Homo sapiens: one gene and its partner. The protein of the gene in region 2 purifies or fractionates together with the protein of the main gene of each other region. This does not show direct contact. Each region holds a gene or a part of one and is shown on either strand. Other genes may lie near its edges.

Region 1 (3,514 bases), on a different chromosome or scaffold from region 2:
CATTCACAATTTTCACCTTATGTGCTGACTCATCCTGTATAAAGATGCAACTACTATTCTACCTTTTTGTGTCCTGTTTTACTTCTATGGTTAGAAAAAAAGCAACAAATCTACTTTTCTAAACAAGTATTTAATATGCTTGCACAGAAAGACAGGAATAATAATATTTGGAGTAATGCATAATTTTCCAAAACCTGCCCTTCCTGTATCTCCTGTCTTCGTGAGAGCACCATTACAACTCTTAGGCTTCCAAGCCAGAAACCTGTGGGTCTTTAATTTACTCTTTTCTCTCAAGCCCTAATATCCTATCTCCTAATACCTTTCATATTTGTCCCCTTTTCCTTTTACCACTGGATTAATTCAGGCTCTAGACTACTCTAATAGTCTCCAAATTGATATTTTTCTTCTCTTGCTGAGCTTGCAATCCATTTTCTGGAATATTTCTAAATCAGATTTCATCATGGGGGTTCCCAGCCTCTCTATGTTACAATCTTCAAAGGCTCTCCTTACCTCAAAATAAAATCCAAACCCTTTCATGATCTAGTCCTTTCTACCATCTACCTTTGTGGACACAGATATTTATCAATTCTCTATATACTTCCTGAGCTCAAGTATGCTAAGCACTTTTCAGGCACCCATGTGTCAGAACTCAGGCTCATTCTTTAAAAGACTTGGCTTATGTTCCCACCTCCTCAGTGAATTCTTATTTGTCTCTGTCTGTTCTCTATGCTTTCAGAGCACCTTCATCATCACACTGACTTACATAGCTGTCTAATTTATTCAGCAGTGAGTACCTCTGAAAGAAGATATTTTAATTCCACATAAGTTCATCAACATACAATCACTGTTTTAACCAATCAGTCAAATGAATAAAGCTAGAAGACATGAGGACTAATGAAGTCAATCGCTTTCACTAAAGTCACATAGTTCTTTTATTACTGGCTGCATCGCTGGCACAGACCAAGTCAGAGTTCCTTAACAGCACGGACAACAGAACTTTGAACAATGATAAAATTTTTGCATATCTGTGCTGAAGGACCAGTCAGAGAGTTCCTTAATAGCACTGACAACAGAACTTTGAGTAATGACAAAATTTTTGCATATGTGTGCTGACCCACAGTTGCCATCAGCAACACATGGCTTTTGAGTACCCACCTGAACTGTGCTCAAAAGGAACCAAGTTCTAAGTTTTATGAATTTTATTTAAAGGTCAAATGTGGTTGCTGTGCTGTACTGGACAGCACAGCTATAGACAATCTGCACTAGAGATCCAAAAACAACTGAAACCACCAACTTGAGAATAAATATCGTAGGTGAAAATGGTACAAATTGTGAATAGAGATGGTCTCAAAACCTTTAATTAAAAAAAGTGTAGTACTGAAAATGTAGTTTTATAGCCTGTTTATCAATATTTACAAGCTGAAATATTTTCCATTACCTTTCCACTGGTTTGGTTAAAATGGGTGCTTATAAGACAGCTTTGAAGATGTTTACCAGCACATATTTGTGTTATCTTGATTCACTGCTATCCTTTCCTTTTCAGTCCACTGAAAACTGAATTCTAGATGTACTAATATGATTTAAGGGTATGTGAAGAAAATGGGAATGGAGAAGGAGGCACAAAGAAGCACAGAAAAACAAATATGCTGATTAAAATAACAGATGTCAGGGCAAGAGAATATAAGATAATGTCTGAAATGAATATAGGGACCAGAAAGAAAAAAGGCTAAAACTCAAGAAATCAAGTAAAAATGAATGTTAATTTGCTACTAGAGACTCACTAAGAACGAATGTCTAAAATAAGTTCTATTTTAGAAAGTATTATAAAAAAGACATTGTCTAATAGAGCATAAAAACGCTCTGAACAGAAAATCAGATCATAGAATAATGAAAATGAACTAGTAAGAACATAACAGTCTAAGTACTTTTAAAATATTACTTCGCTTCACCCCCAGAAGGAGTTATTTCCTCTACCAATGAAGAAATCCAAATAAATAACCTGCCTAGTCACACAACTAGTTAATGATGGGCCAGCATTCAAATTCAAGTTCTTTTTACTGTACTTATGAAAATATACAGATTGCTGTAATGCACTCATTGGATTTCTAGCTGAATTCTACATTATTTTAAACTTAAAAATAGATTATCTTAATATTAGTATTTGAGTATCATTTTAGTTTTACTCCAATGCTTGAGATCAGAATGCATAATTTAGTGTATATTAATTTAAGCCTCCATTCCTGAAAACTACAGTAATTCCCTAAAATTTCTCTGCTTCCCCATTTTTCTGCTTCAAACTCTTCTGGCACAAGGGTATCAGAAGAATATTCTGACGATGTCAAAACCATCATTCCCATTCACCTAAAAGATAAATTCCAAACTTCTTACCCTAAAACTCAAGAAGTTTTATAATATAGCTCCAATATACCTTTCTAATCTTAGCTCCAGCAATTAGCCATTCAGAATCTCCATTAGAGTCAAAACAGCTCTACATAAAGTTCCTCAAATATGGCTTGTGCTTCTCGTCTCTCTTGCCCCACCTAAAATGCTTTTCCCTATTCAAAAGCTTTACTCCTCCCACAATCTCAATTTTGTGAAACCTTCCTGGGCTCATCTATCTTCTGGCCCAATGATCTCTCCCTTCTGTGGACTGCAGTACTGATATAATAAAGCAAACATATGGCATTCATTATCTATTGGCTTGTGAATTCTGTATCCTAACCATTGTTTATCTAATTGACACGTGTTTTGTTTCTTCAACTAGGAAAGTTGAGAGTGGAATCTATGTCTTATACATTTTAAAATTTGCTAAGTTTTAGCAGTGCTTTAGAGGTGGCGTAGATAACTGCAGTCTCAGTTTCTAAGAACAAATACAACCACTTCCTCACCAACCCCAGTACATTCTAAGGCCTAGAACTTAAATTTACAAAAACACTGCTTGCTTCTAAAGTCTAACACATTAGCTAAGTAACTCTTAAGAATTGCGAATACTATATATTCACAATACTCTCAACAAATAAAACATGCCTAAAATAATCATCAGCTTACCGACAATATGGGTTTCTTCGAGACGAATATCGAAGGGTAAGAAATCTATAGTATATAAAAGGTTGGAGCAAACTTCCTTGACCACTGAAATAAACAAATACAAGCGTGATAAATATACATTTCAATTCATGTGTATACTCTCAAAACTTAAAAGCAATTCAACTGGAGAATATGTGTATCTTCATTCATCAAATGGTCATAGTGAAATCTATCATGTCTAAATCCAAGTTATCCTTAAAAAAGGATATAAAAGAATGTACATGATTGGTAAAGAGTAAAATGTTGTTTAATTTTTTTATAAATGTATTCTTATCTGTATTACTTTTGAAATTTTTTAAAATACTAAATAAATCAGAAAATGTTAAATAATTCCGTAATTACTAATTGATGAAATCAAGTTGTAAAGCTTCATAAAATATGCAAATGAAAAGTGACTTATTTTATATATATAAAAAGAAACAAACAC
Region 2 (4,119 bases):
GCCTTGGCCTCCCAAAGTGCTGGGATTACAGGAGTGAGCCACCGTGCCCAAAAAAATAAATTTTGTAATGTTTCACTTAACAAAAGAGATACATTCTGAGAAATGTATCATTAAGTGATTTCATAATTAGTTGATTTCGTTGTCACGCAAACATCATAGAATGCACTTACACAAACCTAGATGGTACAGCCTACTACACACCCAGGCTTTATGGTAGAGCCTATTGCCCTTGGCATTAGAGACTATTTTTATAAACTTCAATAATAAATAAGAACTGCCCCTTAGAGCTGCTCTCCCCTCCATTCTAAACCTGGTGCAACTTACGAGGAAAGCTTGAGTTAGGAAACAGGAGTTGGGCATAAGCACTTTGATTTCTGCATCCCGAAGGGGAAGTTTCCAAAAATTTCTTAAATCACAGTGTCTAAATTAGAGCTTCAGAGAAGTGCCAAAAGCCAAGGGGAGGTAAGCTGAACGGCAATAAAAAAACACACGACAGGTCATATTTCATTTGGTTCTTTTTATTAGAAACTGAGAATACAGCAAGTAGGGAAATCCCACATCAATGGAACCATCACACAGATGCCTTTCTGGAACCCCAACCTTCTATGATCCCCAAAAATGTGCTTTGTGGCTTTAGCATAATTTATAAAGGGGAAGAGGGAAAATACTGAAAAAGGCCACTATTTAATGGTGAAAGAATGAAGCTGTAGAGGTCCCAACCAGCCTAGGGCCAAAAAAGAAAATTAAAAATCTGCACAGAGCAAGCAAGCCTCTGACTGCTGAGAGTAAGGCATTCAGGCGCCAACCTGGTGAGAGTTCTCAGCGAGCACTGTCAGGTCAAGTGCACATGAGGCTGTTGGTAGTGAGCTGCACGTAGACACACACATAGAAATGGGCACATGCCCACATACACACCCGAAAAAGGGAGATTTTACTGGATTACACATCAGTGATGTTAATTTCATTTTTCCTAAGGGTTTGTGCTATGTTGAACCAGATCCTTCCAGCTTTGGGGTGTGGGTGACTGCACCCAGAGGCTGCTACTTCTGTTGGTGTTGTGACAGGGCTGCACCTATACGCTGTATCCCAAAGTGCATGACCGAAGAGCAAGTCTGGCTTCTGATACGTGCTGTTGCTCCCAAGAAACTAAGTGGGCTTCTGTCCAAATGGCCACTGTCCTGCTGGACTATGCTTTCTCAAAGGGATTAATACTGTTCTTTATTCTGTCAGGCACTGCACCAGTTCATCCACTGAGTCTTTTGCTCGGTCCACCTAGCACCTAGGACAGTGACCTTATCCAGAACCAAAACGTTCAAGTTCTTCTCAACTTCTACACTGGATTCTTTCTTCCTAGATCCCACCTTTTGCTGGAGATTGCAAGGGCAAGGGAGGAAAATAACTGAGAAAACTCTATTGAATAAATAGGAGACCCTTCCCATATTCCCAAACACCTACTGAGGACGCCAGTCCCCATGCTCAGGACCTCCATATTTAGTTCTAATACCCACAACCCCAGGATATAATGGAGTCATCCCAAGTCTTTGATGACAGTAACCTAAGACTCGAGCACTATTTTGGTGGTTCACCTATGGGCCAAGATCAGAATTCCATGAACCAGATCCTTTCCCCACCACTTTCTCTGACACCGTATCAGGTAGGCCTGTGACATGAGCCATCGTCTTGTACCTCACTCCCTGGCAATAACATACCATTGTATTTAAAATGCCACACCACTCTTATCCCTGTAAAGTGAGGTTCAGTGAGTGCTGACAACTCCGTACTACAACTGGCTTTAAGAGTTCTGCTGGCTTTCTTATTCAAGGAGAGCCGAGGTGTCTGTCACATCCAGGCTTACCAAGACAGTGTACCAGAGGTAAAACTCATCTTTCCTAATCCAAAGGAAGGGTCTACCAATCTATGTAGATGAGCTCAGGAGAAACCTGGACACGTCAGAATCTCATTTGTGGCTGGCTCCCATGCCAAGAACTATGTCAGAGAAAGGTCCATTTCTATTCCCTCAAGGAGGAAGTGTAGTTAGGGCAGTGATTTTTAATAGAGGGAAATTTAGAGAGTGTTCCAGAGCTCCACAGCAAGGATATGGAAAACTGTCCCATCCCTCTAATAAGACTTCCCATAAAAGTGAGCGGGATGCCAGGAAGTAATCAGATCAGCCCATGCTAATGTTTCTAGAGCTCCTCCATGGCCTCCAGCACCCCTTTACCAGCTGCTAGGAGTGTGTCAGTCTCTCAAATGACAATGACACCCTAACTAGAGCCTTTATCTAACATCCTGTCACCCACTCATGTGCTGCTTCCACTGAGAAAACACATACCACTCCCCTCTACCTCAGGCCTCCCAAAGGGAGTGGTCATGTCACCACTGGGCTAGGGCTATACTCTCTGCCCCATTAGGGTCCAAGGTATGTCAGCCTTTAGAAGGCATCTTGGTGCACCAAGACACTGTACATTCCGGGGCTATCACCTGATCCTACAGTCACTTTTTGTGCAAAATTCAAACAGTGTGTGGTACTTGCATGTTTCATTCTATACAAAAATTCTCCCTCCCTCCCTTACCCCTATGTTTTAAACATTTATATAAAGTCTTATTTAAACAGTTAGAAATCTTATTTACATTAATTTCTTTGTTCTCCCAAAAGAGCATTTAAAATCACACTCCCACCCCTTATCGGATATAAATGTTCACTTAAATTGGTTTGTATTATTGTCATAGAGAGAGAGAAAGGGAGAAGAAAGAACCACCAGCTAAACTGTTTCGCCATCTTCTACAAATAAATATGATATGGATCAGAAGCCAGTTTGCCAAGGGTCTTGCAGAGCCCGCAATCAGTAGATCCCAAGAATAAGCCAGGGTTTGGGCTATGTCTCCTTTTCTCCCAATTGATGCACTCCATCCTTTGAGGTATGATTTATTTTTGTTTTTCTCTTCTCAGTCATGTACCACGCAGAGCCACTGGGCCGTCACAAAGCCCACGAGGCTGTCAAAGTTTTGGGGCTCCTCTGGTACTGGCATCAGTAGCCAGCAGGGAGGCCCGCAAGTGCCGCAGGCCCTGGTTTAGGGTCATAGTCCCTGGAGACTGGTAGGTATCACAGTGCATCCTCTTCACTGCAGCCCCCGCCGATCATGAAACGAAACTCCTGGAGGTTTGAGACACCATGGAAGTGAACAAAAGCTCCAGCAACCACAAAGATATGAAACAGCTGATGAGAGTGAAACTGGAGGGGAAAAAAGAAGAGAAGGGGGTAGAGAAACCCATACATTATTAAGACTGCTAAAGATTCTTAGGATCGTTTAATCCTGGTTTATGCTGAGCAGAAGGCAGGGAATGGATGTGACAGAGCTCAAATTCAAGGCGTCCACAGATCCTGGAACATCCATTAGGTGTAACACATTCTGCTGAGCTGAAAGCCAGCTGTTCCCAAAGAAACCAAGGTGCTGCCACTAAGCTCTACACATAAAAATCTACAAACTTAACACTGAAACCAGTGGCAAATGACACACAGACTCTCTTGCTAAAGTGGCAAATGACACACAGACTCTCTTGCTAACAGGCCACAAAGGTCCCAAGGATCCCTTGACACCTAGCCATGGGCTATGATTACACATACAGTCCTTTTCCTACTCACTGCTGATGGACATTTTGTCATGGACAAGAGGACTAGAGCTATGGTCATTTAAATGTTGCTCTCTGTTAGAAAAACTAAAGAGGCTTCCAGGATGGTGTGTGGAATGTCACAACATATGGTCCCCAGAGTTTCCTTCAGTGCTACGATTCTCAAATTTCATGAACTACATAATGTGTCAAAAACTAAGCAAACAGGCCCTTTTACTTCTCAAGTCAGAAGCTGGTCTACAAGCAAGTGACATTATTTCTGATTTTACCTGTTCTGTTGAATGCTATTCCACATCTCAAGAAGGGTAATCAATTGCTCGCTGCACTTCAAAAATTACACTATTCTGTCATTATAATCTCAAAATGAAAAAGTACAGTGGCAAAGCAGTATTTATCAAGAGAAAAACACTGATTTTAGAAGCAAAAACTAGAAGAAATCAAGTCACATCCCAAGAGATGTTTCCTAGGAAACCAAAGGGGATTAATTT

Evidence for each region. Proteins that work in one complex are often made in the same cells at the same time.
Region 1: the proteins of ADIPOR2 (region 2) and TMEM33 purify together in Homo sapiens (affinity purification with mass spectrometry, with the first as the bait; one study listed by BioGRID). This does not show direct contact.

What each region holds. Positions count from the first base shown.
Region 1 is NC_000004.12:41,948,920-41,952,433, reverse strand, and holds part of TMEM33 (transmembrane protein 33), read right to left. Parts: intron 3,133-3,514; coding exon 3,049-3,132; intron 1-3,048. UniProt on the Homo sapiens protein: Acts as a regulator of the tubular endoplasmic reticulum (ER) network by modulating intracellular calcium homeostasis. Mechanistically, stimulates PKD2 calcium-dependent activity. Suppresses the RTN3/4-induced formation of the ER tubules.
Region 2 is NC_000012.12:1,785,058-1,789,176, reverse strand, and holds the end of ADIPOR2 (adiponectin receptor protein 2), read right to left. Parts: intron 3,234-4,119; coding exon 3,105-3,233; 3' UTR 503-3,104; downstream 1-502. UniProt on the Homo sapiens protein: Receptor for ADIPOQ, an essential hormone secreted by adipocytes that regulates glucose and lipid metabolism. Required for normal body fat and glucose homeostasis.